Homo sapiens: one gene and its partners. The protein of the gene in region 1 purifies or fractionates together with the protein of each later gene. This does not show direct contact. Each region holds a gene or a part of one and is shown in the gene's direction. Other genes may lie near its edges.

The links.
Region 2: the proteins of KIF3B (region 1) and GOLGA3 fractionate together in Homo sapiens (co-fractionation; one large-scale study listed by BioGRID). This does not show direct contact.
Region 3: the proteins of KIF3B (region 1) and IFT172 fractionate together in Homo sapiens (co-fractionation; one large-scale study listed by BioGRID). This does not show direct contact.

Annotation. Positions count from the first base shown.
Region 1 is NC_000020.11:32,315,592-32,319,242, forward strand, and holds part of KIF3B (kinesin-like protein KIF3B), read left to right. Parts: intron 1-626; coding exon 627-728; intron 729-935; coding exon 936-1,058; intron 1,059-1,164; coding exon 1,165-1,283; intron 1,284-3,651. UniProt on the Homo sapiens protein: Microtubule-based molecular motor that transport intracellular cargos, such as vesicles, organelles and protein complexes. Uses ATP hydrolysis to generate force to bind and move along the microtubule. Plays a role in cilia formation.
Region 2 is NC_000012.12:132,808,244-132,811,894, reverse strand, and holds part of GOLGA3 (golgin subfamily A member 3), read left to right. Parts: intron 1-12; exon of another isoform or gene 13-108; intron 109-3,345; coding exon 3,346-3,651. UniProt on the Homo sapiens protein: Golgi auto-antigen; probably involved in maintaining Golgi structure.
Region 3 is NC_000002.12:27,487,642-27,491,392, reverse strand, and holds the start of IFT172 (intraflagellar transport protein 172 homolog), read left to right. Parts: upstream 1-1,649; 5' UTR 1,650-1,739; coding exon 1,740-1,778; intron 1,779-3,751. UniProt on the Homo sapiens protein: Required for the maintenance and formation of cilia. Plays an indirect role in hedgehog (Hh) signaling, cilia being required for all activity of the hedgehog pathway.

The DNA of each region.
Region 1 (3,651 bases):
AGTCCCAGCTGCTTGGGAGGCTGAGGTGGGAGGATTGCTTGAACTAAGGAGGTCAAGGCTGCAGTGAGCTGTGATCGTGCCACCGCATTCCAGCTTGGGTGACAGAACTAGACCCTGTCTTTAAAAAATTTTAAAAAATCCCCACAGAGTCTGAATTCTATCCCATCAGTGTGCCTCTCCCATGAATTACTGTGTCCTTTCCTCATGATGGCATCTGGCGCCATATGGTTAAAGCCTGCTTGCTTGTCTGTTTTCCTCAGTGGACTCGGAGCTTTGTGATTCACACTCACATTGCATCCCCAGGACCTAACATAAAGGGTCTGCTTAATATGTTCTAAGTGGGGTTAATACTTTGTAGAAACAAGCAAAAAAAAAAAATTTGTTAAAGCTGAAATTCATGTATCTGAAGAAACTGTATCTTCAGTGTTACCAAGAAGCCTCTAGTGAAGCTGCCCCAGTCCCTCACCAGTGATGGATGGGCACAGCTGAGCACAGTGTATTTTTTCCCAGAGTTTGTCCCTTTTGGCTCAGTCCTGAGCTCTTTATCTTTCACAGGCTCCCCTGTGAGGAATTATGTTCTGAGAGAAACCGTTCATGAGATGGATTCTACTTTGTTTCTCACTCAGGCCATGGAGAGTAAGTTGCTTGTTGGAGGAAAAAATATAGTAGATCATACGAATGAACAGCAGAAAATCCTGGAGCAGAAACGACAGGAAATTGCAGAGCAGGTAACTTTTCATTCTTTTTCAGGGAGAATGGGTGAGGTAAGGTGTGTTTATGCTGCAGAGCAAACGTCTCATATTAGACTCTCTTCAAAGAGAATGAGAGCAAGGTGTGTCTGCCTCATCCTAGCTGGAGACTCTGATCCTAGCTTGGGGAACCCAGCATAGACACAGTCTCTAGGGCAAGCTGATGAATTTTGTCATGTTGCTCAGAAACGTCGAGAAAGAGAAATCCAGCAACAGATGGAAAGTCGAGATGAGGAGACCTTGGAACTTAAAGAGACATACAGCTCATTGCAGCAAGAGGTGGACATCAAGACCAAAAAACTCAAAAAGGTATGAAAGGAATGAGGCCAGATGGAGTTGCCTTGAGACTTGGGGAAAGGGAGAACTCTACCCTTTGGACAGACACCCTCCTCACCTGCCTCTCCCCTCATTCCAGCTCTTCTCCAAGCTTCAGGCAGTGAAGGCTGAGATCCATGACCTCCAAGAAGAACACATCAAGGAGCGCCAAGAGCTAGAGCAGACTCAGAATGAGCTCACCAGGGAGCTGAAACTCAAGTAAGTGCCAGGCCTTCCATAGTGCCCCCAAGCCACTTGCTGAGTCATTGATCTCGTTTGTTTAGTTAGAAACAGCCCTGGCTGGGCTTGGTGGCCTACGCCTGTAATCCCAGTGTTTTGGGAAGCGGAGGCGGGCAGATCACCTGATGTCAGGAGTTCGAGACCAGCCTGACCAACATGGTGAAACCCCGTCTCTACTAAGAAATACAAAAATTAGCTGGGCGTGGTGGTGCATGCCTGTAGTCCTAGCTACTTGGGAGGCTGAGATAGGAGAATCGCTTGAACCCGGGAAGTGGAGATTGCGGTGAGTTGATATCGTGCCACTGCACTCCAGCCTGGGCGACGGAGTGAGAAAAAAACACAAAAAAAGAAATAGCCCTGAGGACAGGTCCTTCTCCAGCTCATCTCCTGCCACCCCATGTTCTGTTCATTCCTGAAAAAGTCACTTTCCATCTCTGGATCCCATCTGTTAACTGAATGACTTCATCAGGTGATCTCCAAGTTCCCTTCTAACCCTACCTTCTCGAAGCTTTTAAAGATTCTGGTCTTACATCTGTCTGATGATAAGAGGGAATATTTTATTAACTTGACTTTTTATTGTGACAATTTTCTGAATGGTATAATAAATACCCAAGTACCCATCACCCAGATTCAAGGATTAACAAGCTTTTGCCATCTATCTTTCACAAAAATATTTTAAAGCAAATCTTAACCTCATGTTATCTCACTCCTACATACTTATATATATATATATATGATCACAGTGGTTTTTTTTTTTTTTGAGACAGAGTTTTGCTCTATCACCCAGGCTGGAGTGCAGTGGCACAATCACAGTTCACAGCAGCCTGTAACTTGTGGGCTCAAACAGTCCTCCCACCTTAGCCTCCCGGGTAGCTGGAACTACAGGTGTGTGCCACTATGCCCAGCTAATTTTTAAAAAAAATTTTATAGAGATAGAGTCTCTCTATGTTACCTAAGCTGATCTCAAACTCCTAGGCTCAAGCAATCCTCCTGTTTCAGCCTCCCAAAGTGCTGGGATTATAGGTGTGAGCCACCACACCCAGCCCACAATACTGTTTTTAAAAAAGCTTAATTGAGACATACTTCACATACCATACAATTCACATATTTAAAGTGTACAAATCAGTCCGGGCATGGTGGCTCATGCCTGTAATCCCAGCATTTGGGAGGCCGAGGCAGGTGGATCACCTGAGGCCAGGAGTTCAAGACCAGCCTGGCCAACATGGTGAAACCCCGTCTCTACTAAAAATCCAAAAATTAGCTGGGTGTGATGGCGTGTACCTGTAATCCCAGTTACTCAGGAGGCTGAGGCAGGAGAATCTCTTGAACCTGGGAGGCGGAGGTTGCAGTGAGCTGAGATCACACCACTTTACTCAAGCCTGGGTGACACAGCGAGATTCTTGTCTCAAAAAAAAAAAAATTAAAAAATGATAAAGTATACAAATCAGTGTTTTTTTAAAAGCATATATATGCATAGGGCTATAAAACCACCACTACAATCTAATTTTAGAACATTTTTATTACTCTCCTCTAAAAGAAACTCTACCAGTTAGTAGTCACTCCTCATTACCCCCTTTCCCAACCCGAAGTAATCACTAATCTGCTTCCTGTCTCTATGGCTTTGCCTATTCTGGCCATCTCATATAAATGGAATCACACACTGTGTGGCCTTTTTGGCCTGGTGTCTTTTGCTTAGCATGACGCTTTCAAGGATCGTCCATGCCGTAGCATGGATCAACAGATATCTGGTAGTCCCAACATCAATTGTTCTTTATTATGACTGAATAATATTGCACTGTATGAATAGGACACATATTTATTTATTTTTCAGTTTATATACATTCCGATTATTTCTAGTCTTTGGCTATTATGGATAATACTTCTATAAGCATTCATGTATAAGGTTTTGTATGGATGTGTGTTTTCATTTCTCTGGGATACATTCATAGGAGTGGAATTGCTGGGTCATATGGTAACTCAGTGTTTAACTTTTTGAGAGAATGCCAAACTGTTTGCCACAGTGGCTGCACTATTTTACATTTCTACCACCAATTTCTCCACATCTTCTTTTTTTTTTTTTTCTTTGAGACAGTCTCGTTCTGCCACCCAGGCTGGTGTGCAGAGGTGCAGTCTCAGCACACTGCAACCTCCACCTCCTGGGCTCAAGCGATCCTCCCACCTCAACCTCTGGAATAGCTGGGACTATAGCGGCATGCCACCCTACTTGGCTAATTTTTGTGTTTTTTGTAGAGATGGGGTTTCACCATGTTGCCTAGGCTGGTCTCAAACTCCTGGGCTCAAGCAGTCTGCCCGACTTAGCCTCCCAAAGTGCTAGGATTACAAGTGT
Region 2 (3,651 bases), on another chromosome or scaffold:
GACTACAGGCACCCACCATCGCGCCCAGCCTATGTCATGTTTCAAAAGGATCTCTTCAGTAGAAGAAGATCAATAAAATGACCAGCGTGTTCTTCTTATACCTTTAAGGTTATGTTTTTAAATACTTTAATCTGGCTGGGTGCAGTGGCTCACACCTATAATCCCAGCACTATGGGAGGGTGGGGCGGGCGGATTGCTTGAGGTCAGGAGTTTGAGACCAGCCTGGCCAACGTGGAGAAACCCCGTCTCTACTAAAAATACAAAAAATTAGCCGGATGTGATGGCACACCCCTGTAATCCTAGCTACTCAGGAGGCTGAGACAGGAGAATCGCTTGAACCCAGGCGGCAGAGGTTGCAGTGAGCCAAGATTGCACCACTGCACTCCAGCCTGGGTCCATCTCAAAAAAAAAATAAAAATGCAAGTATGAAAAATGAAGAGTTATCCTAGCAGTTGTAAGATTAGTGGGAAGTATAACATTTATAACAACAAAAAGGATAAACTGAGAAATAAGTTAGAATGGCCGCAGAGGGCCTGGGTTCTAGATGGGGGTGGGGTAGCTGCTCTGTTGAGGGGCGTGCATGTAGGGTCCAGCCCCACAGGGTCAGTGGGTTTTCTCCCTGTGTGCGGAGACGAGAGAGTGTAGAAATAAAGACACAAGACAAAGAGATAAAAGACAGCTGGGCCGGGGGGACCACTACCACCAAGACGTGGAGACAGGTAGTGGCCCCGAATGTCAGGCTGTGCTGTTATTTATTGGATACAAAGCAAAAGGGGCAGGGTAAAGAGTGTGAGTCATCTCCAATGATAAGTAAGGTCACGTGGGTCACGTGCCCACTGGACAGGGGGCCCTCCCCTGCCTGGCAGCTGAGGTAGAGAGAGAGGGAGAGAGAGAGACAGCTTATGCCGTTATTTCTGCATATCAGAGACTTTTAGTACTTTCACTAATTTTGCTACTGTTATCTAAAAGGCAGAGCCACGTGTACAGGATGGAACATGAAAGCAGACTAGGAGTGTGACCACTGAAGCACAGCATCACAGGTTGATGGTTAGGCCTCCGGATAACTGTGCGCGGGCCTGACTGACGTCAGGCCCTCCACAAGAGGTGGAGGAGTAGAGTCTTCTCTAAACTCTGCTAAGTAGTGGGTGTTTTTCCTTGACACTGATGCTACCGCTAGACCATGGTCTGCTTGGCAATGGGCGTCTTCCCAGATGCTGGCGTTACCGCTAGACCCAGGAGCCCTCTGGTGGCCCTGTCTGGGCATAACAGAAGGCTCGCACTTGTCTTCTGGTCACTTCTCACTGTGTCCCCTCAGCTCCTATCTCTGTATGGCCTGGTTTTTCCTAGGTTATGATTGTAGAGTGAGGATTATTATAATATTGGAATAAAAAGTAATTGCTGCAAACTAATGATTAATGATATTCATATATAATCATATCTAAGATCTATATCTGGTATAACTATTCTTATTTTATATACTTTATTATACTGGAACAGTTCGCGTCCTCAGTCTCTTGCCTCGGCACCTGGGTGGCTTGCCGCCCACACGTGCAAGCAGATGTGGGCAGGCGGAGGAAATTATGGATTTAAGGTGGTTATAGTTCAACAGAATGTTCTTCCTTTTTGAAGAAATTTTTTTTTGTTTTGGAGACAGGGTCTCACTCTGTCACCCAGGCTGGAGTGCAGTGGCATGATCTCGGCTTATTACGACCTCCACCTCCTGGGTTCAAGTGATTCTCCTGCCTCATCCTCCCAAGTAGCTGAGATTACAGGTGTGTGCCACCATGCCTGGCTCATTTTTTTGTATTTTTAGTAGAGACGGGGGTTTCAACATGTTGGCCAGCCTGGTCTTGAACTCCTTACCTCAAATGATCTGCCCGCCTCAGCCTCCCAAAGTGCTGGGATTACAGGTGTGAACCACCACGCCCGGCCTTGAAGAAAATTTCTATGTTTATCCAAAAAAATAAAATAAACTGGAGAGTAGCCAGGAAAGTTCTGTTGAGGAAGTCTGTGGGTGGCAAGCCACTCAGGCACCGAGGCAAGAGACAGAGGACACGGGCTGTTCCAGTATAATAAAATATAAAACAAGAATAGTTACACCAGATATAGATCTTAGATATGATTATATATGAATATCATTAATCATTAGTTTGTAGCAATTACTTTTTATTCCAATATTATGATAATCCTCGCTCTATAATCATAGCCTAGGAAAAACCAGGCCATACAGAGATAGGAGCTGAGGGGACATAGTGAGGTGTGACCAGAAGGCAAGAGTGCAAGCCTTCTGTTATGCCCAGACAGGGCCACCAGAGGGCTCCTTGGTCTAGCGGTGAAGCCAGTGTCTGGGAAGACGGGAAGACGCCCGTTACCAGGCGGATCGTGGTCCAGCGGTAGCAAAAGGTGTCAAGGAACAACACCCACTACTTAGCAGACCGGGAACCGGGGGGCGGGGGGGCGGGGGTGGGGGTTGGTGTCTCCCTTTCCCCGGGGGAGTTTAGAGAAGACTCTGCTCCTCCACCTCTTGTGGAGGGCCTGACTGATGTCAGGCCTGCCCGCAGTTATCCGGAGGCCTAACCATCTCCCTGTGATGCTGTGCTTCAGTGGTCACACTCCTAGTCTGCCTTCATGTTCCATCCTGTATACCTGGCTCTGCCTTCTAGACAGCAGTAGTAAATTAGTGAAAGTACTAATAGTCCCTGATATGCAGAAATAATGGCGTAAGCTGTCTTTGTGTCTCCTCTCCCTCTCTGCCTTGGTTGCCAGGCAGGGAAGGGCCCCCGTCCAGTGGACACGTGACCCACGTGACCTTACCTATCATTGGAGGTGACTCACATTCTTTACCCTGCCCCTTCTGCCTTGTATCCAATAAATAACAGCGCAGCCCGACATTCAGGGCCACTACCGGTCTCCGCGCATTGGTGGTAGTGGTCCCCCAGGCCCAGCTGCCTTTTCTCTTGTCTCTTTGTCTTGTGTCTTTATTTCTACACTCTCGTCGCCGCACACAGGGGGAGACCCACTGACCCTGTGGGGCTGGTCCCTACAGAAGTCTGATGAGGAGGTACTTGCTGGGATGTGTTTTAAACGTGTTGAGGTCACAGTCACTGAAGAGTGTGCTTTAGACCAGAGGTGGTCATGCTGGTCACTAGAGTGGGGCCTTGCGGCAGTGAGACCACCACGGATCGGAGGCCTGGCCGCACCCTGTGTGGTGAGGGGCTGGGGAGGTGGTGCTCTCTGGTTGTCAGCGGAGGGAGTAGTGATCGGTGCCACCTTTCTGAATGGCAGTTTTAAGTATGCTGCTTGTGGATTTTAAATGTAATTTTTGTACTTTTGTTTTCTTCTCAGTCCAGTCAACCTGCAACCAAAACGAGACTTTTTAGCACGCTTGATCCTGAGCTCATGTTAAACCCAGAAAACTTACCAAGGGCCAGTACCCTGGCTATGACAAAAGAATATTCCTTCCTGCGCACCAGTGTCCCTCGGGGGCCTAAGGTGGGCAGCCTGGGGCTTCCGGCACATCCTAGGGAGAAAAAAACTTCCAAATCAAGCAAAATCCGGTCTCTGGCCGATTACAGAACTGAAGATTCAAATGCGGGGAATTCTGGGGGAAATGTCCCGGCTCCCGATTCTACCAAGGGTTCCCTGAAGCAG
Region 3 (3,751 bases), on another chromosome or scaffold:
TAGTCAGTCAAAGTCAGTAATAACTGTAATTCATAAATGAGTTTATATTCATGCTCTGCCACCATATCCAGAGGAGGATTCTGAAAATAAAACTGAGGGGTTGGGACTCCCCTGTCAAAATAATTCTCATTTGAGCTCTGAGGCCTACTTGTTTCCTGTGAAAATAGGGGCTGTCCTCTGCTCTTTCCTATTTTCTAAGGGGTGGTTGGTGGCCATGAGACAAACACCTGTTGACACTTGCAAACCACTGTGGGGGAAGGCTTCTGGACCCACAGTCTGTCTGGAGAGCATATGTTACACTTCCTGGAGAGTTACAGATCTTCCCAACTTTGGATCATTTCAGAGCAGGCTTATGAATAACTCCTTTCTGCATTTCAATCTCTCTGGTATGTTAGAAGATAGGCCAAAAATTCTGAACGGGACTCCAAAGATCAACAAGTCAGTCTCTTTTCTACTTAACCAATCTCTAACCCCAGGTATCACAAGACAACCTATCGGGTGAGCCAAGTCAGGTCTGCCCTCAAAACTGAACCACAGGCCGAGAACGGTGGCTCACGCCTGTAATCCCAGCATTTTGGGAGGCCAAGGCGGGCAAATCACCTGAGGTCGGGAGTTTGAGACCAGCCTGACCAACATGGAGAAACCCTGTCTCTACTAAAAATACAAAATTGGTCGGGCGTGGTGGCACATGCCTGTAATCCCAGCTACTTGGGAGGCTGAGGCAGGAGAATCTCTTGAACCCGGGAGGCAGAGGTTGCAGTGAGCCAAGATCGCGCCATTGCAGTCCAGCCTGGGCAACAAGAGTGAAACTCTGTCTCAAAACAACAACAACAACAAACTGAACCATAAAAACATTCCAATGTAAACAGCAGTCTTTAACCCACCATTACCCAATTAGGAAGTAGGGTACCTTACGTTTCTTTGGCAGCTAGTTCCAAAACACTCATCTTCCAGATTCTGAGAATAAATGTCATTTATTGGGATGGGAATGTGACAGGTTATAGTATCGTGGCATGGAGAGAGCGAGCTAGGAGTTGAGAAGGAACATAAAAGCTGTTTAAAGCTACTAACTCTGGGTTGAACTCCAGTTCCAAGTCCTTCGCTGGCTGTGTTAGTTTGAGCAAGTGCCCTGAGTCTCCTGTTATGTAAAATGAGACTAATAATAACGCTATCCCCTTCAAAAGGTGGTTTTGGGATTAAATGATATAAATGCACGTACAATACTTTACACAGTACCTGGCAGACACATACTGAGTATTCATCGTTAGCTATCGTTATTAGCCTTGCGATCCCGTGCAAATCATGTAACCTATTTGGGTACAATTCCGTCAACTGCAGAAGGCCTATCATGGAAACCGCCCTGCTTCCCTCCAGAGTTGTGAGGATTAAGAGAGTGCACTCAGAAAGTCAGGTACATCGAAGAGCGAGACGGACCGCTATGACGTAGGACCTGGGGCTGGCTGAAGGCTTGTGGGCGGGGCTTGGTCTTGAGTTTGCATGCGGCGACGGGATTGGTCAAGGAGAACATTCATGAAGCCCTCTCAAGGGCCCGCCCTAGATCTCACCGCGCTTGCGCACGTTCTGTTTGCTTCGCCGCAAAGTTACGTGTGACCTTGCGACGCGTGTTGCGCTCCGGTCGCATAAGCGTCAGTGCCTGTCGCTGCGGCTGCGTGGCGGGTTGTCCAGGTAACCACGGGAGTTGTCGCTGTCTAGGAGCATCTGAAAGACAGGTGTGCGTCATGCACTTGAAGCACCTGAGGACCCTGCTGAGCCCTCAGGTGAGGAATTGCGTGCCAGTCCCTCCCCCTTATGCTTTATGTTCCAAGAAAAGTGGGGGAACTGAAGTTTAATGATGTTGACCTCCTACTGTGTGCAGAAGGCTGTAAGGGATATAGCGATGATCTGGATCTTGGCCTGTCGATACAGCGTCCAGGAGGCGAGATGCAGGGCTAAGGACTTGTAGCTTTCCTTACATTTCATTCACATCAGTTGTGTACAGGCCCCATGCTGGGGTTCGTAGGAATCCCAAACCACCCGACTTATGTCCCTCCCTTCAGGAGGCTCGTATTAGAGGGTGAGGTGCACATGTAAGCAGCGAGTATGCATGTGCCCATAATTAAATAAGCGCCTTAGGTGCAAGCCCTGAAGGGGGAGTGCAAAGACCGAACCGTGTATTCTGATTCAGGAGAGGCTGGGCACTAGGGGAGGAGCCCTGAAACATGGTGAAGAAAGGGTGGGCTTTGGAGTTAGCACACCAGAATTTAAGTCCTAGCTCCACCACTACTTTCTTATTTTCTTTTTAAAATTTCTTACCTTGTCCTTATTTCAGGTCAACCACTACTTTATTTAACTATTTGAGACAGAGTTTTGCTCTGTTGCCCAGGCTGGAGTGCAGTGGCTCGATCTCACTGCAACCTCCGCCTCCCGGGTTCAAGGGATTTTCCTGCCATAGCCTCCCAAGTAGCTGGGATTACAGACGTGCGCTAGCACGCCCGGGTAATTTTTTGTTTCTTTGTTTGTTTTTGTTTTTGTTTTTTGTAGAGACGAGGTTTCCCCATGTTGCCCAGACTGGCCACCAGTACTTTAAACAAATGACCTGATATCTCTAACTTTAGCCTTTATTATACAATGTCTCGGAGCACTCACCAACTTCTTCATTTGAAAAAACATGAGTACTAATAGCAACTTTAGGGGACTTGGGGAAGAGTTATATAGAGTAATATACACAAAAGAGCATTGTAAACTGAAAAGCAGTGTGAAAAATTGATAGACAAGAGGAAAGGACATTCAAAATTCAAAGGACAGAATAATACAAAGCTAATAAGAATAAGATGTCTGGCCAGGCCCAGTGGCTCACACCTGTAATCCCAGCAATTTGGGAGGCCAAGGTGGGAGGATCACTTGAGCCCAAGATTCCAAGACCTCTACAAAAAAATTTTGACCAGGTGCGGTGGCTCACACCTGTAATCCCTGTACTTTGGGAGGCCGAGGCGGGCGGATCACCTGAGGTCAGGAGTTCAAGTCCAGCCTGGCCAACATGGTGAAACCCCATCTCTACTAAAAATGCAAAAATTAGCCGGGCGTGGCAGCAGCCGCCTGTAATCCCAGCTACTCAGGAGGCTGAGGAAGGAGAATCGCTTGAACCCGGGAGGTGGAGGTTGCAGTGAGCCGAGATCGTGCCACTGCACTCCAGCCTGGGGGACAAGAGTGAGACTTTGTCCAAAAAAAAAAAATTTTTTTTAAATAGCCTCGTGTGGTGGCAAGCACCTGTAGGCCCAGCTGCTGGGGTCACTGAAGTGGGAGGATCTCCTGAGCCCAGGAGGTCGAGGCTGCAGTGAGACGTGATCACACCACTGCACTCCAGCCTGGGTGACAGAGTGAGGCTGTGTCTTAAAAATAAATAAGATGTTCCATAACTGAGTGTGTAATATGTACTGGGGTACCTTAATAAAGAAATTGGGATTATGGTTTATGGATTTACACATACATGGATTTAATCATGGTTCTAGGCCAGGCGCAGTGGTTCATGCCTGTAAACCAAGCTCTTTGGGAGGCCGAGGCAGGCAGATCACCCGAGGTCAGGGGTTCGACACCATCCTGGCCAACGTGGTGAAACTACTAAAAATACAAAAATTAGCTAGATGTGGTGGCGCATGCCTGTAATCCCAGCTACTCGGGAGGCTGAGGCAGGAGAATCGCTTGAACTCAGGAGGCAGAGTTGCAGTGAGTCAAGATCGCACCACTGCACTCC